Linked DNA regions of Homo sapiens. The protein of the gene in region 7 purifies or fractionates together with the protein of the main gene of each other region. This does not show direct contact. Each region holds a gene or a part of one and is shown on either strand. Other genes may lie near its edges.

Evidence for each region.
Region 1: the proteins of CCNB2 (region 7) and SCML2 fractionate together in Homo sapiens (co-fractionation; one study listed by IntAct). This does not show direct contact.
Region 2: the proteins of CCNB2 (region 7) and DIAPH3 fractionate together in Homo sapiens (co-fractionation; one large-scale study listed by BioGRID). This does not show direct contact.
Region 3: the proteins of CCNB2 (region 7) and KRT73 purify together in Homo sapiens (affinity purification with mass spectrometry; one large-scale study listed by BioGRID and IntAct). This does not show direct contact.
Region 4: the proteins of CCNB2 (region 7) and PDS5A purify together in Homo sapiens (affinity purification with mass spectrometry; one large-scale study listed by BioGRID and IntAct). This does not show direct contact.
Region 5: the proteins of CCNB2 (region 7) and VSIG1 purify together in Homo sapiens (co-immunoprecipitation; one large-scale study listed by IntAct). This does not show direct contact.
Region 6: the proteins of CCNB2 (region 7) and CDK17 purify together in Homo sapiens (affinity purification with mass spectrometry; one large-scale study listed by BioGRID and IntAct). This does not show direct contact.

The regions. Positions count from the first base shown.
Region 1 is NC_000023.11:18,344,689-18,348,188, reverse strand, and holds part of SCML2 (sex comb on midleg-like protein 2), read left to right. Parts: intron 1-3,500. UniProt on the Homo sapiens protein: Putative Polycomb group (PcG) protein. PcG proteins act by forming multiprotein complexes, which are required to maintain the transcriptionally repressive state of homeotic genes throughout development.
Region 2 is NC_000013.11:59,964,929-59,968,428, reverse strand, and holds part of DIAPH3 (protein diaphanous homolog 3), read left to right. Parts: intron 1-529; coding exon of another isoform or gene 530-597; exon of another isoform or gene 598-1,100; intron 1,101-2,894; coding exon of another isoform or gene 2,895-3,034; exon of another isoform or gene 3,035-3,500. UniProt on the Homo sapiens protein: Actin nucleation and elongation factor required for the assembly of F-actin structures, such as actin cables and stress fibers. Required for cytokinesis, stress fiber formation and transcriptional activation of the serum response factor.
Region 3 is NC_000012.12:52,615,760-52,620,059, reverse strand, and holds the start of KRT73 (keratin, type II cytoskeletal 73), read left to right. Parts: upstream 1-1,500; 5' UTR 1,501-1,535; coding exon 1,536-1,982; intron 1,983-3,679; coding exon 3,680-3,894; intron 3,895-4,300. UniProt on the Homo sapiens protein: Has a role in hair formation. Specific component of keratin intermediate filaments in the inner root sheath (IRS) of the hair follicle.
Region 4 is NC_000004.12:39,862,912-39,866,411, reverse strand, and holds part of PDS5A (sister chromatid cohesion protein PDS5 homolog A), read left to right. Parts: intron 1-2,952; coding exon 2,953-3,076; intron 3,077-3,338; coding exon 3,339-3,500. UniProt on the Homo sapiens protein: Probable regulator of sister chromatid cohesion in mitosis which may stabilize cohesin complex association with chromatin. May couple sister chromatid cohesion during mitosis to DNA replication.
Region 5 is NC_000023.11:108,051,565-108,055,064, forward strand, and holds part of VSIG1 (V-set and immunoglobulin domain-containing protein 1 isoform 2 precursor), read left to right. Parts: intron 1-3,500.
Region 6 is NC_000012.12:96,292,440-96,295,939, reverse strand, and holds part of CDK17 (cyclin-dependent kinase 17), read left to right. Parts: intron 1-817; coding exon 818-941; intron 942-3,500. UniProt on the Homo sapiens protein: May play a role in terminally differentiated neurons. Has a Ser/Thr-phosphorylating activity for histone H1.
Region 7 is NC_000015.10:59,122,146-59,125,545, forward strand, and holds the end of CCNB2 (G2/mitotic-specific cyclin-B2), read left to right. Parts: intron 1-1,371; coding exon 1,372-1,482; intron 1,483-2,621; coding exon 2,622-2,732; 3' UTR 2,733-2,900; downstream 2,901-3,400. UniProt on the Homo sapiens protein: Essential for the control of the cell cycle at the G2/M (mitosis) transition.

The DNA.
Region 1 (3,500 bases), on a different chromosome or scaffold from region 7:
GGGTAGCAGGTCTTTGGGCAGTTAGCCTGTAGCTGTGCTTTAAAACCTCAGGAATTTACAACTATAAACTGGGATTTTGGCAACCCTTGACTTATCTTTCGTTTATCTGTTTTCTGACATGACATACTTCTTCACTAAATACATAGCTTTCACATAAATCATTTTGAAATTGCAAGTGATTAACTTACAGGTTTTTTGGGGGGTAACTTAAATTAGAAATTTTTGAAAATAGTTAAGCCTTCTTAGGTTTGTTTTGACACAGAAAAAGATTAATTACTAATTTGTTGGGGTGGACTCTTTACTAAAGCATAATTTAAAATTGCTCCTTTAGAAACCTTAATTTCCTCAAGAAGGCTTGATTTGATAAATTATTGCTACCAAAAATGTTCTTTGATTTTTTTTTACAGATTTCAGAAATATGGAGATGAAAATGTTCTTTTTTTTTTTTTTTTTTTTTTTTTTTTTGAGACGGAGTCTTGCTCTGTCACCCAGGCTGGAGTGCAGTGGCATGATCTCGGTTCACTGCAGCCTCTGCCTCCCAGGTTCAAGCAATTTTCATGCCTCAGCCACCCGGGTAGGTGAGATTATAGGTGTGTACCACCGCAGACGGGGTTTTGCCATGTTGGCCAGGCTGGTCTCGAACTTCAGACCTCAAGTGATCTGCCCACCTCGTATTCCCAGAGTGCGGGGATTACAGGCATGAGCCCCTGCGCCCGGCCTAAAAATGTTCTTTTTTTTTTTTTGAAATGGAATTTTACTCTTGTCACTCAGGCTGGGGTGCAATGGCACTATCTTGGCTCACTGCAACCTCCCCCTCCCAGATTCAAGCGATTCTCCTGTCTCAGCCTGCCAGGTAGCTGGGACTACAGGTGCCCGCCACCACACCCGGCTAATTTTTGTATTTTTGGTAGAGACGGGGTTTTACCATGTTGGCCAGTCTGGTCTCAAACTCTTGACCTCAGGTGATTCACCCGCCTCAGCCTCCCAAAGTGCTGGGATTACAAGCTTGAGCCACCGCACCCGGCTTGTTCTTTCTTAATATTGATTAGTCTTAATTCAGAGATAGAATTTTAGTTTTAAATGTAATTACAGTATTAGAATTTAGTGTTTTTCTGATTACTTTTATAACTATGTCAGAAAATGTGACATTTGATTATTTACTTGAGTGAATTGAATAGATACTTGTGGAATCTTAATGTGATGACTCATGTTCAATTCCACAAAATTATGTATGGTTATACAATGGAATATACACTTTTTCTATCCTGTATTAGGATAATCACTATTACCAGAAACAAAATCTTAGTTGAAAGAGAGAGCTTCTCTTGGTCAAAGAAAAAATACATAACTACAGTGTATTTTAATTAAATCAGTATTTTTTTTTGCATTTAGGCATAAATGTGAAGTACTTCTTGAAACAAAATAATAAACTATTTACAAGTTAAAAACATAAAGGTGTTATTTTATGCAGTTAACTCAGACCTTCCCCTTCACAATAAAGGACAGCGTTTTTGTTTGTTCAAGTCTAAAAGTAGTGTCTTTATAACAAGATAGATTTTAAAAGGAAAAGAACCCTTTCTACCTGTGCTATTTAATTAATCTCTGGTAAATTGTGTATGTATAATAACTTCCGTCACTTATTCCAACATTTTCTTTAAAACACCAGCAAACGTATTTGTGAATCTCTCTTATCCTTGAAACTTCTTATGCTGTTGATAAACTCAAGGGGCTATGATGAAACATTTTTTTCAATAGATTATTTTGTGAATAGGGACTTGGCTTGTTGTTTCTTTTTTTGGTGAATATTGGTTTAAAGCACATGTTTTAGTTATACCTGTTATGTAGTTGGCATTTATAAACTGAATTCTATAATGGTAACTCATACGGAGCCTGACTTTTTGAGACCATGAACATCCTAGAAAGAGATAAAATTCAGAGTAAAAAAAAAAGGCCAATCAACTTCTGGGAAAGAGAGAGATATTGGAGGTGGGGGATTGTCTCAGATCTCACAGAATTTTCTCCTTGGCCCATTGACTTAGACTTGTGTGTAAATTAAGACAGCTGATTTGATATTGCAGGAAAGAACAGAGAACAACAATGATGGCCAAAAGAAAAATCTCGGCCGAGCGCCGTGGCTTACGTGAGCCTGTAATCCCGGCACTTTGGGAGGCTGAGGCAGGAGGATCATTTGAGCTCAGGAGTTTGAGACCAGTATGGGCAACTTAGTGAGCCATCGTCTCTACTAAAATTAAAAAAAAAAAAAAAATTAGTTGCTGAGCTTGTTGGCACATGCCTATAGTCCCAGCTACTTTGTGTGTGTGTGTGTCGGGGGTAGGGGGTGTGCAGGGGGTGTGCTGAGGCAGGACAATCACTTAAGGCCGGGAGGTCAGGCTGCAGTGAGCCCTGATTATGCCACTGAACTCCAGCCTGGGCAACAGAGTGAGACCCTGTCTCAAAACAAAGAATAAAAGAAAAATTTTATCAAAAAATTGTTTTAGTCCATGTGTGGTGGCTTACACCTCTAATTCCAGCACTTTGAGAGGCTGAGGCAAGAGGATTCATTGAGCCCAGGAGTTTGAGACCAGCCTGGGCAACATGGAAAAACTCTGTCACTACAAAAAATACAAAAATTAGCCAGGTATGGTGGTGTGTGCCTGTAGTCCCAGCTACTAGGGAGGGTGAGGTGGGAGGATCACCTGAGCCCGGGGAGGTTGAGGTTGTAGCGAGCTATGATCACTCCACTGCACTCCAGCCTGGGTGACAGAGAGACCCTGTTTCAAAAAAAAAATTGTTTTTAAAAACCACAGTATTCTGGTTCTATATAGTTTAGATACAAGCAGCCTATAGCACAGCAGAGTTTACTCATTCAGCAAACATTTTGGGGACCCTAGTATGTGATAGACACTGTGCTCGTTATTCTGAAGGATATAAAGAAGAACGAGATGTGATACTGCCCCCAGGAGCTTATTGTCTAGCACGGGAGAAAAGGCACTTACACAGTTAAACACAACAAAGGCAGTTTTAGCACAATGGTTAAGCATTCATGAACCTAGATTCAAACCTAGCTGGGTGATCTTGGGCAGGTCTTTGAGCCTCAATATCCTTAACTTTCAAATGAACATTAATGGACATTAATAACAGTATCTACTATGCAGGCTTGTAATAAGCTTTAGATAAGAAAAAATACATATATAAAAGCCTTAGGGTAGGGTACCAGGCATTCATTAATAGCAAGAGCTCAGTAAGTAACAGATCTGAGTAGTAGTATCACCACTGCCAACACCATTATCATTGAATCTCTGGGAACATAACTTTTGTTTTCTCCTGCCCTCATGGATCCGTTTTGTCTAGGGTATCTGGTATATTATAATATCTCCTTGTATTAGTCTGTTTTCACGCTGCCGATAAAGACATACCTGAAACTGGGCAATTTATAAGAAAAAGAGGTTTAATGGACTTACAGTTCTACCTAGCTAGGGAGGCCTCACAATCATGGTGAA
Region 2 (3,500 bases), on a different chromosome or scaffold from region 7:
GGCAGTTAAAATTTGTGTTTACATGTAAAACACTTCAGAATTTCAGATTTCATAATCTGGAGTTGATTAGTTTTCCTTTTGCTTTCCTAGTAGGTACAAATGGTGGTACCTAAAAACTATTTAAGTAATTCTGCCATACAGCTACTCTCTTTTTCTCCTTACTCTGATTACTTTCTTAATTAATGAGGCTCAAAAGGGAAACTTGTTAGCATGTCTTTAATTTAGCTGCAATGTTAGCCCTAAATGAAATAATTGGACCTTTAAAAAATTCTTAAGTCATCTAACTTTAGCCTTGAGATTCAAGGTTGAATAAAAAAATGATGTATTTGCTCTATCTAATACTAGTTAGAAAGATTAAGGTGAAAAGGTGATCATTTTTTGCATACTCCATATTTCCATCTCTCTCTGCCTTTGTACTGCTGGTCCTTTGGCCTGGAATCTCTTTACTTGACTTAGAGGCTGGCAGAGGACTATGATACCTTCTGTCTCAATTCAACTCAAATGCTGCTTTCTTTTTTTTCTGTGACAGTAGATGACATTTCCAGGGGGAACACAAAGAGTGGGGAAGCCCAGGGTTGTGACTCCGAGCCCTGCTAACATTTCTCAGTGGTAAGCAGAGATGAGCTGTAAAGGTGACTATTTTTTTGGGACTTCATTTTAAAGAATAATTCCTAGAAAGCATTATTTGAGGAGTCCTAAGAGTGCTTTTTGGCATTACTGGTCATCTGGCAATCAAGGAGAATATATGACAATTAAAATGTGTATTTACATGTAAAACACTTCAGAGTATTTTATAGGAAAGGCCAGTCATTGCTACGTTCAGAGAAACAGGATTTTATATAGACATTTAATAGGAAAGATCAGAAAGGAAGGAAAGAGAAAGATGTCCAGAGAGCTTAGACAGGACTGGTCAAGTAGACAGGTCTACTTGTGGTCTTTTATTCATGGCCTGGCTGCTGAGGCATTGGGTCCAAATGTTACATTCACGTATCTCCCTGAGTCCAACATACTTTGTTTGAATCAATTTTGTAATTGCTGCAGAATTCAAAACTATGGCCGGGTGCAATGGCTCCCGCCTGTAATCTCAGCATTTTGGGAGGTCGAGGTGGGTTGATCACTTGAGGCCAGGAGTTTGAGACCAGCCTGGCCAACATGATGAGACCCTCATTTCTACTAAAAAAAATTAAAAAAAAAAATAGCCAGGCATGGTGGTGCACACCTGTAGTCCCAGCTACTCCGGAGGCTGAGGCATGAGAATCGCTTGAACCTGGGAGGCAGAGGTTGCAGCGAGCCAGGATCACGCCACTGCACTCCAGTCTGGGCAACAGAGTAAGACTATGTCTCAAAAAAACACAAAAAAACAAAAAAACAAAAACAGGCAAACCCCCAAACAAAAGTAAACCTGGTCACTTATGTATTGTTCACTCCAAGGTGAAAATCCATTTGTCTTTCCACCCTTTCGCAAGCCAGTGCAGGAGGTAGAGGCATTGGCTGCTGGCTGATTTTCATCACAACTAGGTAGGGAAGGATGGTAATTACTGAAGAATAGTGGGTTTTTTAGAGAAATGGTGTATCTCTGTTTTTCATTGCAGTAGTAACTGTTTGGACTGAGAACCGAGGCTATTTCTTTGATTACAAAGATGGACATTCCATCCCAGGCATTTAAATGATAGATGCCAATCCTTTGTGCTTCCCAAGCATTCAAATTGGGTAGTAAGAACAAAGGAACTGAATCCAATCATTTAAAGAGATCCTTGAAGTTTTCTGTCATGTAGACTTTATTTGTTGTCAAGTAAGTGGGGCTTTTTTCTTATGGTAGACACTACTTTAGGTTTTCAGGACTTCTAATGTTTAGACTACTGGGATTTACAGGTCTAATACACTTAGAGTTGGAAAAGGAGCTAATATCTATATCAGATATTGTGCATACGTGATATATCAGTGCCTCAGCTGGGTTCTCTTCATATTATCTTGTTTAATCTTTAGTGTATCTCAGCTGAGATCTTTTCTCCTGGTCTCCTGATGGCAAAACAATTCTGGCTTCTTGTGATACTATCCAACCCTACCTACATTTACATATTACCAAGATATTCTTGGTAAGGGCTTGGCTCTTTCCTCTTAATTCCTGTTGCCTTTTATTACATTCCTACTTTTTTTTTTCCAATTAGATCTTACCTATTCTGCTTTTTAAACTAATCTTTGTGACCATTTACAACAACGCTTCTGTGGGAAAGTACCTTGTGCCATATCTGTAGAGGAATAGGAATCCTCTCTAATCCTTTTCCTGTGAAAAATCAGTAATTTTTTCCTGATTCACTTACATCATTTTCTTTTACACTTTATTTTGCTGTTAAGTAGCTCACTTCAGTTTTCTTGATTCTCTCTGTTGTAAGTTTTTGGGAGACATCTTAGCTTTCTGTATTTTAAATTATTCTGGAAATGTATATAAGCACTTTTCCAGATTATGTTTTTTCTTTTTCTCATACCTCCTCTTTCATACCTTCCACTTTTTCTTATTGGCTACCACTGTTCCACTCAATAACTATTTATTGGGTGCATATTGCATGTTGTGCCTCATGCTTGACATTGGGGATACCAGCATGAATAAGGCAGGTGTGCTTCCCATACTCATGTTGCTTTTACATTCCTGATGAAACTCAGTCAAGTACTTAGTTGAAGCATAATAACAAGGAGTGGAATAACAAATGCTGATTTTGATTTTAGAAAAGACTGACATTTTACTAAATTCAGCTTCTGTTAAGACTTAACAAGGTTATAAAAAAAGATTGTTTATCTATCTCTCTGAAATTTAATCATAATATTCATATATTGAACATTTGGTATCATCAAAATAATGCTAATGACCTATGTATTTTTTTTTTTTTTTTTACCAGATTGGAAGCATCTGTTGGTTAATTTTTACAGGCTGTTGGAAAATGGATTAGAGTATACTAACAGGTTATTGGTGTTGGATTTGTCAAGTAAAATTAATATTAACTACTTTCATTATTCACAAACTGTTAATAGGGATTAAAGGGCTTTCTGAAAGTATATGAATAGTCTAATTCACTTAGACTAATTTATTATGAAAATGTGGTTCCACAATTGTTAGCTTTCTGAAGTAATCATATTTTATAACAGGTGTGTCATTTTTGCCAGATAGGGCCCATAAATTGGTTTATAAATTATTTCTCAACTGAATAGTTATGGCATATGGAAACAGTTAATGGATTATCCACTTAAAAACAAATCAAGCTTAGATTTCTGACATCATAGTTCAGTGGACAAAGAATTGAGGAAGTAGGTGATAAACGTGGATTATCCCAGCAACTTGGCGGTGTTCAAGATGTTGCATTGTGTTTGAAACATAATTTATTCCTCTATACAAACAAATGTGTATAAAATTTTTTAAACTACCTCACAAGGCTACATTAAGGTGAACACATAGAAATATGTTTTTTTGTAATGCATGCTAATAAAGAGATGATGCCAAAATAAAT
Region 3 (4,300 bases), on a different chromosome or scaffold from region 7:
CAAGTGGCATTGCCTTTAGTGAAATTGAAGACATCAAAGAAAATGATTATTCTTAACTAGAAAACAACCATATTGTATAAAACAGAGGGGAGGTTGAATTTGGCAATTGCTTAGTACAACAATTTTAGAGGCATATCATAACCTCTATACAGAAATAGAAAAGAAGGATGGGCCAACTGTTCATTCAAGTACTCCAGCTAGTGAAATACTTGTGTTTTTATGGAGGAAATTCTATACTATGGATATATTTGGGATTTGGGATTTGGGAAACTCTTGGGTCACATACTTTGGCAATGTCAAGGATCCATGAAATTCAAATGTCTTCCCCTACCTCCCCATCTCCAAAATTGTGAGCTAGGTTTGGTCTTCATAATTCGGGACCCAAGAGCCTAGCACAGTACCTGGGAGAGAGTCAGCCCTCAAGAGAAGTCTGTTAAACGAATGGATAAATGAATGAACAAGTAGATGGCTGGCTGGCTGGTTGGACGGATAGATGGACGAATGAATAAGGCGGGCATAGCTCTGAATGTGGAGTCAGAAGACCAGCCAAGGGAGTCCTCAAGGCTGGGGCCTGTGCTTTTTGGGGGCATTTTCATTCTCTGGGATTCACACAAAGAAAGGACTCACTAAATGTTTGCTAAAGGAATGACATCCTCAATTATCTGAACCTTGGTTTCCCCATTTGTGTAATGTGGATCATCACCATTCCCCTCCATGCAGACTAAGTGGATTAAATGAGCTTCTTGTGTGAGGAGCTCTGTTACACTGTAAAGTGCTGCACCAGTGTCAGCCATCGTGAATGGTGCAATGACCATAATTTCAAGGTCAAGAGTCAGGGTAGTGGGATGGTAAAGGGAAAAAGAAGTCAGTGTGTGCAAAGGAAGGTGAGCAGGGCAGCCCGGCTGGCACAGAGGAGCAGGAGAGCTGCCTGGGAGGGCACAGCAGGGGGCTGGCAGCCAGAGGCTGGTCCTGGATTCCCAGTGTGCTCCTCTCCTATGGCCCTGGCCAGCCATCAAACCTGTCTCCAGGAACTCTGGGAAGCCAGGCAGCAGCAGCCTCTTCTTAACCACATAAAAGCAGCTCAGCCAGGGTCCCTGAAGCAGCCCATCTGATGCTGGCATGGTTGTGAGATTTCTAACAGATGACACTGTCAATTAAAGGTCTCCCCTCTGTACCCCTACAATCCCAGGCCCCACCACTCCCTGGGGAACAGCAATTGAGACTGCGACAAACCTCCCACCTAAGATCTTTCTATGGATAATGTGCCCATGCTAATTACACATGTTCATTAGATAAAACTCAAATTACATGAGCAAGACTTGCAAGACTAGCACTTTGGGAGTTTTCAAGTCATTTACCTGGTGTCTGATTTTGCTGGGAGAAAATGATTTCTTGCTTCCAGGCAAACTGAACCCACAAATTAGGCCCATGGCTCCCTCTTGAGTCCTATAAAGTGGGAGCCCAGGATCACAGGCTGGTGAACTGCATCTCAGCTAAGGGTCAGCATCTTATCCCCACTTTCTGGCCTCCCCACCATGAGCCGCCAATTCACCTACAAGTCGGGAGCTGCTGCCAAGGGGGGCTTCAGCGGCTGCTCCGCTGTGCTCTCAGGGGGCAGCTCATCCTCCTACCGAGCAGGGGGCAAAGGGCTCAGTGGAGGCTTCAGCAGTCGGAGCCTTTACAGCCTGGGGGGTGCCCGGAGCATCTCTTTCAATGTGGCCAGTGGCAGTGGGTGGGCAGGAGGCTATGGATTTGGCCGGGGCCGGGCCAGTGGCTTTGCTGGCAGCATGTTTGGCAGTGTGGCCTTGGGGTCCGTGTGTCCGTCGTTGTGCCCGCCCGGGGGTATCCATCAGGTCACCATCAACAAGAGCCTCCTGGCACCCCTGAACGTGGAGCTGGACCCTGAAATCCAGAAAGTGCGTGCCCAGGAGCGGGAGCAGATCAAGGTGCTGAACAACAAGTTCGCCTCCTTCATTGACAAGGTGGGTCTTTCTGGAGAAAGCTGATCTTGGGCTCCCCTTTTAAGGACTCAGGAGGGAGCCACTGCCCTAATTTGTGGTTCAATTTGCCTGAGAGCAAGAAATCATTTTCTCCCAGCAAAATCAGACACCAGGTAAACAACTTGAAAGCTCCCCAGGTGCTGGGCCCATAAGGCTTGCTCATGCCGTAGAGCCCCTTCCTTCCCCCGCCTTCATTGTCCTTGGGGTGCTCCCTGTCTGAAGCAGACGAAGGCAGGACACCTCCCCAGGATGCAGACATAGCCCAGGGAGGAACTGGACAAAGCCTGGACATCAGAGGCAAGGGACCAGGGTTGGAGGGGTGAGAGGAGCCAGCAGCCTAGCCCAGGAAGGTGTCCAGGAAGCAATGAGAGCGGTCTCTGAGTTGAGAAGTAGCAGAGTGACAGCCTGTGAGACTTAGAAGCTAGGCGAAGGAGATGCCCTTGACAGCCTGGGGCATCTAGACTGCCATGCGACCCAGCTGTTCCTCCTGTGTCCCCTGAAAGCTCAGACTCAGTCCGTAACACACACAGCCTATGAGGCAAGGCAGCTGGAGGTCACGGTGCCCTAGAGCAGTGGTTCTCAAAGGTGGCCCTGGAACCAGCAGCAGCAACGTCACCTGGACGCTTGTTAGAATGCACACTCTCAGGCTCCACCCCAGAGCAACTGAATCAGAGACTCTGCAGCAGGGCCCAGCACCCTGCATTTTAACAAGCTCTCCAGGTGATGCTGATGTACACTCAGGTTTGAGAATCACTGAGGAACAAAGTGGTAGGAAGGTATTGGGAAGCAGAGACTTCCTAAGCTTAGAGGAGCAGGGGAAGCTCACCCGGAGCGACAGTGAGGTAGGGTGGTGAGGCATGAGTAGGAGTTTTCAGATGGAGGTGGGGAAAAGGCAATCTAGGGAGACAGCACGTGCAGCATGGTAGAACTTGTCTGGGGAATGGGAGACCTTCGGTTTACGACATCACTGTATGAGTAAAGAAGGAAGCCAGGAGGGCTGGGCACATTATGAAGAGTGTGATAAGGAATATGGACTTGACCCTGAGGGTGATGTGGAACCACCTGAGGGTTTTAAGCAAGGGAATGATATATTTGTAGGTTGCAACTTGAGAATGCTTGTTCTGCTGCTGGGACAATGCTGTGATTGAGATAGTAGAGATTCAGACATGAAAGCAACTTAGGAGGGCCGGAGACCCCAGATAAGCTGAACATCTGCCTCTGGCTGGGCTGGGAGAGCCCACGCACAAGGAGGGAGAGACTAGGCAGAGCACGGGCCACCAGACCCCGAGCAGAAGGCCTGACAGTGTGAAGGCTAGCACAGGCCAGCTTGTGTCTAAGGGGCTGCCTTGGAGAGGTGGCCTGGACTGAACATGGACATCGGTCCAGGCAGGTTTGGATAAGTGCAGAGGAGACAGGAGATCTAGATCTTGATAGTTTGAGAGGGAAATGAAGACATTGGTGCCCCTCCCAACCTTAAGGGCTGCCTCAGAGTGAGAACTTCAGTCAGATAAAGGACCCTAGGTAAGGAGTGGGGGTGTGAGTGGCATGGGTGGCAGTTTTTAAGGGCTGAGGCTCATTTTTAAAGCTAATGTAGCATAAGAAAACACAGTTCCTGTCCAGGAAGGGAATTCTCACATCCCCTCTCCACATTGCTTAAGTATGTGTGGCATGGGTTCCAGGTGCGGTTCCTGGAGCAGCAGAACCAGGTGCTGGAGACCAAGTGGGAGCTGCTACAGCAGCTGGACCTGAACAACTGCAAGAATAACCTGGAGCCCATCCTTGAGGGCTACATCAGCAACCTGCGGAAGCAGCTGGAGACGCTGTCTGGGGACAGGGTGAGGCTGGACTCGGAGCTGAGGAGCGTGCGCGAAGTGGTGGAGGACTACAAGAAGAGGTGAGCAGGACGCCACTCCAGGCTGGTCTGCCTCCCAGGGTGAGGCTTTCCCAGCAGGCACTGGGATGTTTGCCTCTGGCCTTGGAGGTATTGGGTTCATCTGTCCCAGCAAGATGAGAGCCTTCTATGGGCAACGAGGCAGACTAGACAGTGGACAACCAGCCTCTTGGGCAGCGTCAGGGCTGTCCTGGCAGGTGATCCCCTCCTTGGCATGCTCCTTCCTGCTCCCTGTTCAAGGGAGCCTGTATTGTGTGTGCCGCAGCCTCTTGGCTCCTAAGCTCACCACTGTGCCCCTGAGTTCCAAAGAACCACCCCCCACCCACCCGCTGCTCTCTGCCACAGGGAAGGAGGTGGAGTTCCTGTTGGGCTTCCTCTCTCATTGCCTTTCGGTCCTGGACACGGGCCA
Region 4 (3,500 bases), on a different chromosome or scaffold from region 7:
GGCGCGGTGGCCTATGCCTGTAATCCCAGCATTTTGGGAGGCCGAGACGGGCAGATCACGAGGTCAGGAGTTCAAGACCAGCCTGGCCAATATGGTGAAACCCCGTCTCTACTAAAACAAAAAACAAAAATTAGCCAGGCATGGTGGCACATGCCTGTAATCCCAGCTACTCAGGAGGCTGAGGCAGGAGAATCGCTTGAAACCAGAAGGCAGAGGTTGCAGTGAGCTGAGATCGTGCCACCGCACTCCAGCCTGGGCAACAGAGCGAGAGCCTGTCTCAAAATAAATAAATAAATAAAAATAAAAATTGCAATGGCAACTCAAGGGAGAGTTGAAGCCTTCTTGTTGTTCTACAGATTTGGGTGTGTACACTTGTATGTGCACACAGAGATTGTTTACATTGTTACACATTTTCACTTTTAATCTCTAAAATTGCCATCTCATTTTAAGATGAAAATAGAAGCTCAGTTTTTCATGATCCTGGTTTCTGTCAAATTCTTGATTTAGTAGGGGCCAAGATTACCAACATAGATAACTAAAGTATTCTACATATGATGCATTCCTTTTTAAAAATTTGTTTTAGAGGACAGAGGTTTAATCATTCTTTATGAGGCTGAGTGCAGTGGCTTACGCCTGTAATCCCAGCACTTTGGTAGGCCAAGTCAGGCAGATCAATTGAGGTCATGTTGAAACCCTGTCTCTACTAAAAATATAGAAATTTAGCCAGGTGTGGTGGTACGTGCCTATAATCCCAGCTACTGGGGAGGCTAAGGCATGAAAATCACTTGAACCCAGGAGGTGGAGGTTGCAGTGTGCCAAGATCACGCCATTGTACTCCAGCTTTGGCTAGTTATGTGGTACTGCTATGCTATTAATTTTTTTAAAAATTATTGTGATTAGGAATGGGATCTCACTATGTTGCCCAGGCTAGCTGGGCTCAAGCAATCCTCCTGCCTCAGCCTCCTGAGTAGTGGGACTATAGGTGTGCACCACTACGCTCTATTTTTATCATAGAATAAGCCAAAGGCAGCCTTTTATAACACTGTTTAGAGCTGAGTTAGGGATAATGAAAGCTTTAAATTGGGGGTAATTATGTACAGTACATGGCAAAGGCATAATAATGAGCTCTTACAAGTCAGTGATACCTAGGCAGGACCCCCAGTGGAGATGAAGTTTAGCTATTATCAGTTTACTTTTAAAAGTTTAACATCACTAAATGCAGTCAATACAATTTAAACTTAATCAATACCTCTTTTCATTACAAATCAGAAAGAAAAAAAAACGTTATAAGCAATCATTCCTCAGTATGATCATGGAAATGGGTTCCTTCATTACTCCTATGAGTATAAATTAGCAGGACTCTTTGGCATTTTGCATCTAGATCCTCAAAAATGTTATCCTTGACTCTTTATTTTTACACTCATAATTCATGAGTATAAAAGAATCATATGAAAGCTTATACACAAGCATGTTCCTCCAGCATTATTTTCCATCACAAAAAATAGGGGAATGGTTAACCATAGAATGAACACCCATTGGACAGATCCTAACTGGATATCATATAATATAGTATTACCTTTTGTAAGCCTCAATTTCCTCATCTTATGGAGTGAAAATTAATTGAGATAAAGCCTATAAAGTGTTTTTCACACCTGCCTGGCACGGAGTAAGCACTCACATAATAGCTATTAACTTTGATTCCTGAATGAATGCCATAGAAACCATTTGAGGCTCCCTCATTGTTACCAGTGCTCATTTTAACAATCCTGTTGTCCAAGAGTGCCAGGTTTTCTTCTCTCTATGCTTAGCAACAGTCCCAGTGGGTTCCGGCTAGCTTTCTGCATTTCGTAAAGTGGTCACAATAAATACAAAAGCCATGCTATGTTCCACATAGAAGTCGAAGTAGAAAGACTCCCATGCCATCCCATTCATTACCACATTTTACCACGTAAGTAATAAAAATCCACAGTGTCGGGGTGGGAGTGCCAAGGCTTCATAGGTTCCATTTGAAAACTTTACTCTGCAAAAGGAGATCAGCCCCAGGAACTAGTACCTAAGACAGACACTGGCCTCTTATATTTCATATCCTTTAGGTATTTGTCTGATACTTCTTCACTCTTAACTGCAGCCCTGCCATTTCAGCAGGCATTAAACTAGATTCCTGTTACATGTTTATATGCAGGAAATAGATTTTAAATGATGATAGGTGATTTTTTTTTTAATTCTTTGTGGTTTTTTTAATCAAGTTTTTTTGTTTTTTGTTTTTTGTTTTTTGTTTTTTTTGAGACAGAGTCTTACTCTGTTGCCAGGGTAGAGTGCAGTGGTGCGACCTTGGCTCACTGCAACCTCCACCTCTCAGGTTCAAGCAGTTCTCCTGCCTGAGTCTCCCAAGTAGCTGGGACTACAAGTGCGTGCCACCACACCCAGCTAATTTTTTGTATTTTTAGTAGAAACAGGGTTTCACCATGTTGGCCAGGATGGTCTCAATCTCTTGACCTCGTGATCCGTCCACCTCGGCCTCCCAATGTGCTGGGATTACAGGTGTGAGCCACCATGCCTGGCCACTTTAATCAAGTTTTCTACAATCAATATGTATTTCTCTTAAAATGAGGGATACAGCTCCTGATGTAAAGAGTTTTTCCTAGCCTTGCAATTACTATGGTTGCAAGAATAAGCAGAGTTTTTGGGTTGTGGTGAAGTATCTAAGCTAGAGTTTGACTAGAAATGAAGGCAGGTAAATTTGTAATCAGAAAGTCACAATGATTTGATTTGATTGTGAAAGTCACAATCCCCTGTGTTAAGTTCATGGACTCAAAGTAGCTTTCCCATATTTGTACGTCATTTTAAACATAAATTATGCTCTAAGGACCTTACATTCAAAAAGGGACGAAAGCATTTTTATGAATGATAGTGGTTATAGGAAATGTTTATTTCTTTTTTGTTTGTTTATAGTAAATCTGATATGTCTCGCTTGCGATTAGCTGCTGGTAGTGCCATAATGAAGCTTGCTCAGGAACCTTGTTACCATGAAATTATTACCCCAGAACAGTTTCAGCTCTGTGCACTTGTTATTAATGTAAGTAACAATCTTATTTTTGTCAATTACTTATCTTCAAAGTTGAATACATTACTTTTCTATGGATACAAATCCATTTATAATGTGAATATATGCACAAAAGTCACTACTATTATTACCTGTTTAACTGTCTTCCAATTATTACATTATTTATTCTCCCATATAATTATCTTCTTTTTAATTGAAGACACTAAAAATACTTAAACTGCTGTTTTTTATTTAATAAATGGTTGCCAATTTAAGTTTTTCTGTGCTGCTGTAGGATGAGTGTTACCAAGTAAGGCAGATATTTGCTCAGAAGCTGCATAAGGCACTTGTGAAGTTACTGCTCCCATTGGAGTATATGGCGATCTTTGCCTTGTGTGCCAAAGATCCTGTGAAGGAGAGAAGAGCACACGCACGACAATGTTTACTGAAAAATATC
Region 5 (3,500 bases), on a different chromosome or scaffold from region 7:
AACATAGTAGACAAAATGTTCAATCAAAAATCATCTGTCATACCAAGAATCAAGTAAATCACAACTTGACTGAGAAAAGGCAACTACTGCCAACATTAAGATGAGTTCGATGTTGGAATTATCTGACAAGGATTTCAAAGTAGCCATCATAAAAATGCCTCAACAATCAATTAACATTATCTTAAAACAAATAAAGAAAAAAAAGGAAACTTGCAGAAAAGAAAAAGAAGTTATAAAAATATAAGAAAGAAGGAAATTCTGTCATTTGCTACAGCATGAATGAACCTGGGGGACATTATGCTAAGTGAAGCAAGCCAGACACAGAAAGACAAACACCACATAATCTCACTTATATGTGAGATCTAAAAGAGTTGAACTCAGAATTAGAGTAGAATGGTTACCAGGGACTGTGGCTTGGAGGGAGTGGGAAATGGGGAGAAGTTGACCAAAGGGTACAAAGTTCCAGTTAGACAAGAGGAATAAGTTTTTAAGACCTATTTTGCAGCATGCTCACCATAGTTGATAATAATGTATGTGCATTTCAAAACTGCTAAAAGCATAAGATTTTAGTCTACACATTGGGTACAGTGTACACTGTTCGGGTAATGGGGGCACCAAAATCTCAGAAATCACCACTAATGAACTTATCCACGTAACCAAACATCACCTGTTCCCCAAAAAAGTATTCAAAAAAATAATAGATTTTAAATGTTCCTGCTATGAAAAAAACAAAACGAAACAAAAGATAGGTAGGCCAGATGTGGTGGCTCATGCCTGTAATCCCGCCACTTTGGGAGGCCAAGGAAGGTGGATCACTTGAGCTCAGGATTTCGAGAAGAGCCTGGGCCACGTGGTGAAACCCTATTTCTACCAAAAATACACACACACACACACACACAAAATTAGCTGGGCATGGTGGCATGTGCCTGTGGTCCTAGCTACTCGGGATGCTGAGATGGGAGAATTGCTTAAGCCTGGGAGGCAGAGGTTGCCGTGAGCCGAGATCACACTACTGCACTCCAACCTGGGTGACAGAGTGAGACCCTGTCTGAAAACAAAACAAAACAGAACAAAAAACAAAAAAAAGGATAAATTACGTGAGGTGATGGATATGTTAATTAGCTCGATGTAATTATTCCACAGTGTATGCATATATTAAAATATCACATTGTATCCCATAAATATATGCAATAATTATTTGTTAATTAATTAAAATAAAAATTAAGTTAAAAACAAGAATTTAAAAAATACATACTTTGCAATTATCTACTATTTTTCTAAAGACCCTTACAATCTATAGGCTCTTTCTCAGTTTTCTTTTTTCCCCCTTGGAATTATTTTTTGAATAAAACTGGCTTGTTTGTCCCCTCCCCCCAAAAAACAAATATAAATTATAGAACTGTAAAATAAAATAACAAAAATGAAAAACTGGCTGATGGACTCAATAGAAGAGCAGAGATGACAGAAAATAGAATCCATATCTGGTGAAACTATCCTTCAGGAATTAAGGGGAAATAATTAAATTCTCAGTTGAAGGAAAACAAAAAGATTTGTTGCTAGCAGACATACTGTTAAAAAATAGCTAAAGGGATTTCTTCAAACAGAGAATAAATGATAAAGAGCAATCAGGAAGGATGAAAGGACAACAGAAAGAGCAGAAATGTAAGTACATAAAGTAGACTATCTTTTAACTCATGAGTTCTATAAATCATATTTGATAATTGAAGCAAAATTATAACACCATTTTATACTCTAGACAATGATATTTAAAAGTGGGGAAGGTAAAGGAAACTAAATGGAAGTGAGGTTTATACACTTCAATCAAAGTGGTAAAATATTGATATGAGTAGACTGTTATGACTCACACATGAATGTTGAATACCCAGAGAAACCACTGGGAAAACTCTACAAAGATATATATTTTAAAACACTATGAATAAGTCAAGATGGAATCATAAAAAATGCTCAAGTAACTATCAGAAAAGCAAGAAAAGGGAAACAGAAGAATAAGAACTAAAGGGAACAAACAAAAAACAAATAATAAAATAGCAAACAAGAATAATATATCAATAATTACATTAAATAATTATATTGAATGCGAATACCACTACAGTAGTCCCCTTTTATCTGTGGTTTTACTTTCTGAGGTTTCAGTTACCCATAGTACAGTATAATAAGATATTTTGTGAGAAAGAGTGTGAGTGTGTGAACACAATCACATAATTTTTACTCCAGTACATTGGTATAATTGTTCTATTTATTAGTAGTTATCATTGTTAATCTCTTACTGTGCCTAATTTATAAATTAAACTTTATCATAGGTTTGTGTGTATGGGGGAAAAATATATATAGTATACATAGAGTTCAGTACTATCCATGGTTTCAGGCATCCACTGGGGGTCTTGGAATATATCTCCCTGGAATAAGGGGGAACTACTCTATATGCTATTCACAAGAAACTCACATTAAATTTGATGACATAGGAAGATTGCAAGTAAAAATATAGAAAAAGATGTACCACATAAGTATTAATTTTTCAAAAATCTGGAGAAGCTTCATTAATATCTGATAAAATAGTCTTCAGAGCAAAGAAAGTTAAAAGAGATAAACAGAGACATTACCTAATGATAAATGGATCAATCCAGCAGGAGGATACAATGATCCTTAATGGGTACACACCAAACAACTATGTCTCAAAATTCATGAACAAAAACTGATCAAGCTAAAAGAAGAAAGAGACAAATCCACAATTATAGTTGGGAAATTCAATACCCCCTCTCAGAAATTGATAAATCTACTAGACAGAACATCAGTAAATATAGGGAAGATCTGAAAAAGACAGTCAATTAACAGGATCCAGTTGAATATTTTTACGATTTTATATTGGTTTTTCCATAGTGGTTTTAAATTATATCTCTTTGTATAGAAAACTCCACCCAACAACAGCAGAACACACTTTTTTTTGGCACCTACAGAACATTCACCAAGATAGATAATGTGCTTGGCCGTAAAACAAACCTAAACAAATTTAAAATAATTGAAATCATACAGAGTATATTCTCTGACTACAATGCAATGAAACTAGAAATCTGTAGCAGAAAAGTATCTAAACACGTGGAAATTAAACAACACTGTTCTAAATAATCCGTGGATCAAAGAGGAAATCTCAAAAGGAATTTTTTTAAAAATGCGTAGAACTGAATGCAAATGAAAACACAACATATTGAAATATGTACCATGTAGATAAAGCAATTCTGAGAGAGAAATTTCTAACACTAAATGTTTACATTGGAAATAAAGGAAGGTCTTAAGTCAATAACCTAAATTTCTACATCAAGGATCTAGAAAAGAAGACCAAAATAAACCCAAAGCAAGCAGAAGGAAGGGAATAATAAAGAGCTGAAATCAATGAATTTGAAATAGAAAAACTATAGGGAAAAATTAATAACACAAAAATTTGCTTTTCTGAAAAAAAAATCAGTAAAACTGACAAACTTCTA
Region 6 (3,500 bases), on a different chromosome or scaffold from region 7:
AGGGGAAACTCTTGAATCCTCTGTACTTGAGGTTCTTTTTGTTAACCCCAGAGAATCAAAGGTCTTATGTGTTCCGTAACCCTCTTTCTACCAAAATGTACAGCAAAAACTCTACCATTAGCCTTATAGGAATTACTTTTTTCAGAGTCATTCAGAACACTACGGTGCTAATGCCCCTTTGTGAATCACAGTAGATTTTGAAGGCTAAGTAGGAGGTGCTGAAAGTAAAGTACCCAAGAGATGGGTGATAGAAGCTGGTTTAGGTTAGTTTTATAGTAAGTAATTTGCCAGAGCTATGCAGCAGCTTTCTCTTTGATACCTCAGACTTTTCATAAAATCGCCAATTCCAGTGCCTTATTTTAAAGACACTGCCCCAGATCAGAGTTTTTGTTTTTGTTTTTTTTCAAGGAGAGATGGGTGGGAGGGGGGTTGGTTGGTTGTTTTGCCAGAATTTTATAATTAAACTATGTAAACCTTAGTAGGCCTGTAAGTTTATGAGGATATGTTTTTTTTTTTAAGTCATTTTCCACAGTAAATCAACTGTTACTGCTAGGAGGAAGTTACTTTTTAAAAAATATTTCCATAGATACTGTTAGACTAAAAGAAATAGGTAGATGCTTCAAATAGAATAATAAACTATTAAATTCAGAAAGCCACTATATATAAAAGGAAAAAGACATTGTACTTAAGTATGCAATTACTTTCTTTTTCCTGTTACAATGTTCTAGGCCAGCTGCTTTTCTGCTTACCATCATTTATGCTTATACTAAAGCATGTCTCATCTTTAAGACTAATTTTTATTTATTTGTTTCTGTAGCTGTTTCTGTACCAAATTCTACGTGGTTTGGCATATTGCCATAGAAGAAAGGTATTGCATCGAGACTTGAAACCACAGAACCTCCTCATTAATGAGAAAGGAGAATTAAAGCTAGCAGATTTTGGTATGGAATGTATGAGATATTTATTAGTACTTCCAGGTTCTAAAGTGTAATGGTTAAAAGATCAACCACTGTCATAATGTGCCATTGCTTTTATGTGGGTTTGGAAATTTTCTCGGTAGCCCACAGAATAAGATATTTGACAGAACTTTGGTTGGTGATTTATGTTGGTTATTAGCAGCAAATTCTAAAATGCACAGGCTGTTCTTGGGTGTGGACAAAGACCCCTAGGGCTCCTGAGACCCTTGTAGGAGGCCTCTAAATGTAAATATATTACCAAAATTGTACCATCTGTTATTTGCCTATTTCACTGTGTTAATATTTGCAATGATGGTCCCAAAATAATAATGCATAAAACTATACATCAAAGTAGTGGCACCAAAATATATCTTTTTTTTTTTTTTTTTTTTTTTTTTTGAAGACAGCATTTTGCTGTTAAAGCCCAGGCTGGAGTGCAGTGGTGTGATCTTGACTCACTGCAACCTCTGCCTCCCAGGTTCAAGTGACTCTCCTGCCTCAGCCTCCCAAGTAGCTGGGATTACAGGCATGCGCCACCATGCCTGGCTAATTTTGTATTTTTAGCGTGACCACCATGTTGGTCAGGCTGATCTCGAACTCCTGACCTCAGGTGGTCCACTCGCCTCGGCCTCCCAAAGTGCTGAGATTACAGGCATGAGCCACCATGCCCAGGCCGTCATTGTATTCTTTACCACTACACTTACGTAAAGGGAAAACTGTCAGTTACACTTACATGATGAAGCAATAAAATTTATTAATTATATTTAATTTCCATCCTTGACTACATTTCTTTTTAATATTTTATGTGATAAAATGGGAAGTGTACATAAAACTCATTTGCTGCACACAGAAATAATGTGGTTACTTCTCAGGGAAAAGTGCTCATGTGATTATTTGAGTGCACATTGAACTAGCCCTGTTATTTGAGGGGACACCATTTTTACTTAAATGACTGACAGACAAACTGTGGTTATTCAGACTTAGGTGTTTGGCAGACATTTTCCTGAAAGTGAATGAAGGAAGCCTATCATTTCAAGGAAAAGAACTGTCAGTATTTCTTGCCAATAATAAAATTCAAGTTTTCAAGCAAAAATTAGAGTTTGGAAATTTGGATCTGCTTTGAGTTTGATGGCTTTTCAATACTTAGAGACTTTTCTGATGAGATCGATGTTGATGTTAACAAACACGATTTTTCAATATGCTGAAAAAGTGTATAAACATTTGGAATGTATAACCCAGGGATCCACTGTTTTCCAAATGGCTAATGCATGATATTACAGAATCATGCATGGATAAAAGACCCATTTAAAGTACAAGGTCAATGAATTTTAGTGCAACAAAAGCATGAGAAGTTCATCGTTATAGGTTTTGTTAACACATAGCTTTTAAGAGACCACTTACTTTCTAGTTCTGATGTAGTGTCAAATAAGACTATTCACATTTATCAGAAAAGGCTATTAAAATGCCCCTCCTCTTTCAACCTCATATCTGTGTGAGATTTGATTTCCTTCATATATGTATGTTGTGATATGTATATTTGATCTATTTTGATACATATTGTGATATGTATCAAAGCAACATATCACGACACACAGAATGCAAAAACAGATGTGGAATCCAGTTGTCTTCTATTGAAATAGACTTTAGGCCAGACACAGTGGCTCAGGGGTGTAATCCCAGCACTTATGAGGCTGAGGTGAGAGGATCACTTGAAGCCGGGAGTTTAAGACCAGCCTGGGCAACATAGCAAGACCCCATCTCTACAAAAACAAGACTTAAAAGAGATTTACAAAAATGTGAAAGAAGGCCATTCTTCTTACTGTTTTGTTTTTATAAAAAAAATGTTTTTCATAAAAATGTCATACATGCTGCATATAAAGGGTGGTGTTTTTAAAGAGAAAATAATATTTTAAAATTTGCTAAGTTTTAATTTCTAATGTGGCAAATATCAGTAAATATATCCACAAAAATAAAAGCTCTTTAGGTCTTTGATAATTTTCAAGAGTATAAAATGGGTCTTGAGAACAATGAGTTTAGAAGCAACTACTGAAAGGCGTTCCCTTAATATACCTGCCACCATTACTCTGTATTTATTATATGCTCAGTAATTTAATTGTAGCTATTTATCTATTTTTTTTTTAGCTAATCTGGTTTTAAGGGAATTGAAAGTAAAATTAAATGCTCTTTTTGCTTCTAGAAAGTAAACTTTTTCATATTGAAGGAACTTTGTAGAGCAGCTTTGAATTTTTTGTATTCCGCATTCTGAGAGTTTGAATACTCTTAGAGAACTTAGTTTTTAAAAACCCATGCAGTTTTCCATAACTAAATTCATAATTTTTTTTCATAAATGATTATGGTAGTTTTTTGGTTGTTTGTTTTGAGACAGGGTCTTGCTCTGTCACCCTGGCTGAAGTCTAGTGGTGCAATCTCAGCTCACTACAACCTTCGCCTTCTGGGTTCAAGCGATTCTGGTGCCTCAGCCTCCCAAATAGCTGCAATTACAGGGGTGCCCACCACGCCCAGCTAATTTTTGTATTTTTAGTA
Region 7 (3,400 bases):
TTTATTTTGCCAATTATACCATGCATATGAAAAAAACGTACTTTCGCTTTTAGAATTTTTGTCACAGAACTCTTAAATAAAGTCAGTTGACATATCTTTTTTTTTTTTTTTTTTTTTTTTTGAGACAGAGTCTTTCTCTGTCACCCAGACTGGAGTGCAGTGGTGCGATCTCAGCTCACTGCAGCCTCTGCCTCCCGGGTTCCAGCGATTCTCCTGCCTCAGGCGCACACCACCATGCCCGGGGAATTTATGTATTTTTAGTAGAGATGGGGTTTCACCATGTTGGTCAGGCTGGTCTCGAACTCCTGACCTCAGGTGATCCGCCCACCTCGGCCTCCCAAAGTGTTGGGATTACAGGCGTGAGCCACTGCGCCTGGCCTTTTTTTTTTTTCTTTTTTTTTCTTTTTTTTTTGAGACAGGGTCTCACTGTGTTGCCCAGGCTGGAGTGCAATGGCGTTAATATCGCTCATTACCTCAAACTTCTGGGCTCAAGCAATCCTTCCTCCTCAGCTCCTCAAGTAACTGGGACTATAGGTGTACACCACCAAGCTTGGCTAATTTTTCATTTTTCATAGAGATAGGGTCTCCCAATGTTACCCAAGCTGGTCTGAAACTCTTAAGCTCAAGCGATCTTCTTGCCTTGGCCTCCGAAAGTGCTGGGATTATAGGCGTGAGCCACTGTGCCCCGCCAATTTATATATCTTCTTACATGATACATCTTATTATCAATTGACAGCTGTTCTTTTACTTGAATTTTACTCTTTGGGAGGCTAGGTCACAAGGCTTGGTGTGGTAGTGTCTAAGTTCTCTCTGCTGTTTGGTGCTTAACTACACAGGGTTCAACAAGAGAATCATAGGTAGTCCTAGTTCTTCTGGATTTGATAGATTGTTGCTTGTAGCACAGTTTATTTCTTATTTCCGAACATCTTTCCCTGACTGACAGTATGTCTGTTTGGGCTCTTGAGCTCATAACAGGGACAGCTGGGCAGGGCTTTGATGCAGGGTTGTGTGAGATGTGGCCAGCACTGTAAAGGGGCACTTTGTTTTAAGTGTCTCCTTTTCCATCCCCTTTCAGTGTTGTTACTTGAAGGACTCTTACCTGTGCAACGTCTTTGAAAGATCGTATGGGACCTTTGGCACTTGATTTAGTCTGGTCTCAGGGCCAGAATCATCTTGCATTTACCAGCTGCTTTAGTGTTGCTGGTACTGTGAGAGTGGTTAGGGCTTTGATTGAATTTCCAGAAGGTAAGAATATTCTTGTACAGCTTTTACATAAGTAATGTCATCATGTACAAGATGTGTTCTTCTAAAGAAGCAGAGGTTTTCTCTTGCCCCTCAGTCATGTCTGTCTGTCTGCTTCTTGTGTTTCAGAACTTAAAGCAGCAGTATTACACAGGATACACAGAGAATGAAGTATTGGAAGTCATGCAGCACATGGCCAAGAATGTGGTGAAAGTAAATGAAAACTTAACTAAATTCATCGTAAGTACTACTGTTTTCTTAAGCTGTGGAAAGCTTTAGGTTCTGGGTTTTGTGTGTATGTTGGGCGGGGGGGGGCGGTGTGTGCCGTCATGTAAATATATTAATAACATGTGGGAGTTTTAGCACAAATCCTTTATCCTTTATATTTTTCTGGTACAGTATGGTATGGAGCATACTGATAAACCCTGAAAGCAAGCTTTATTTGAAACAAGGTCGATAGGCTAGCCATGTCCAGGCCCAGATCCCAGTCAACCAGTCGGTTACTCAATGTATTGAATTACTCTGTGCTTATACTAGCATCCTGGGGAGGGCACTTTGCAAGCAGGGAAGGCTGGTCTGCATGTGATTGGGAAGAGAGAGGGCCCACTTCAAATGGCGGTGTATTATATTGCGTATTCAGGTGATGTTACTCAGAGCCTTTGTCCAGGGTCTTTTGAGGCAATGATGGAAAAACGCCTAATTAGCAAGCATGGTTAAGAGGGAAGAGGCCCATTCAGGGGGCATCCTGAGGGCATGGTGTCTATCTCTGCATGGCCCACCTATGAGGAGGAGCCAAAGGAGACTTAGTGCTGTCCTGTGCTTGTGTGACACCAAACATCAGAGCTCACCAAGTGTGTGGTGGCAAAGAGCAAGGTATTTGAACCTCAGAAGAGTCTCAAGTGTCCTCACAACATGATTTGCTTCATGGAAGTGTAATATGTGTTCAGTCCTGAGAGGACTGTCTGGGATTTGTTAAGCACTAGTTGCCACCCTCTTTTATTGTCTTTTATTGTCTTTTAATTGTTCCTATTGCTGCCAGGCCTGGTGAACCTGTTATGTCCTGATGGCACTTAGGTGTCGTAAACACAGCTCCCCCTCCCATCCCTCTGGTAGCCTACAAGAGGAAGCCTGCTACTTGGACCTTGAAATCATTTGTTCCTATCACCTGTGCTACCAGCTGTGTTTTATTCATTAATGGGGATGGAAGGAAATGGTCAGGCACATGTTATGAGCCCAGAGCTTTCACTGGCTTCAGCGATTGGGCATCATCAATGTGATCATGATTGTAGCCGTGGACCTTTGATAATTGTGAGTTAGACTAGGAATAAGGTATCATTGGGGGTTCCTGACATGTGCTTAATCACAAATGACTTCTGCAGGCCATCAAGAATAAGTATGCAAGCAGCAAACTCCTGAAGATCAGCATGATCCCTCAGCTGAACTCAAAAGCCGTCAAAGACCTTGCCTCCCCACTGATAGGAAGGTCCTAGGCTGCCGTGGCCCCTGGGGATGTGTGCTTCATTGTGCCCTTTTTCTTATTGGTTTAGAACTCTTGATTTTGTACATAGTCCTCTGGTCTATCTCATGAAACCTCTTCTCAGACCAGTTTTCTAAACATATATTGAGGAAAAATAAAGCGATTGGTTTTTCTTAAGGTATCCCATGTGTATTTATTTGTGTATTCTGTACTTAAGAAATCAGTGAAAGCTTGCTTTGACTAATTTCTTTTTGAGCTGTTATGAATAGCATGTAAATTACTGCCATTATGGCTTGGGCAAGACCTTTTTACCATTTTCTCAAATGGAAAAAACTAGAACTTGGCCTCAGTGAACACTAAACCTATTCCTAAGCTTCTTGAATACAAATAAGTTTATTATGAAAATTTTAAATGGGAGGATAACCATGACACTTTCCTTTCTAGAAGCTAGTCAGCTGCTCTCTAATTCCTGCATAGGAACGCCTGGCCCAGAGCAACCCTTGTAATGGGTCCCTCTCTCAAATGCATTGTTGAGACCAGAGAGAGCCATCCCATGGGTCACAGCTGGAGAAAATGGGCCCGTGGCATCCTGTTCAAGGTGAAGCTTGGCATGCATTTTTTCAGGTACATTATGGGGTAAATGGCTTTGCATTTTTTTGTTTGGTTGGTTTTTAATGGGCA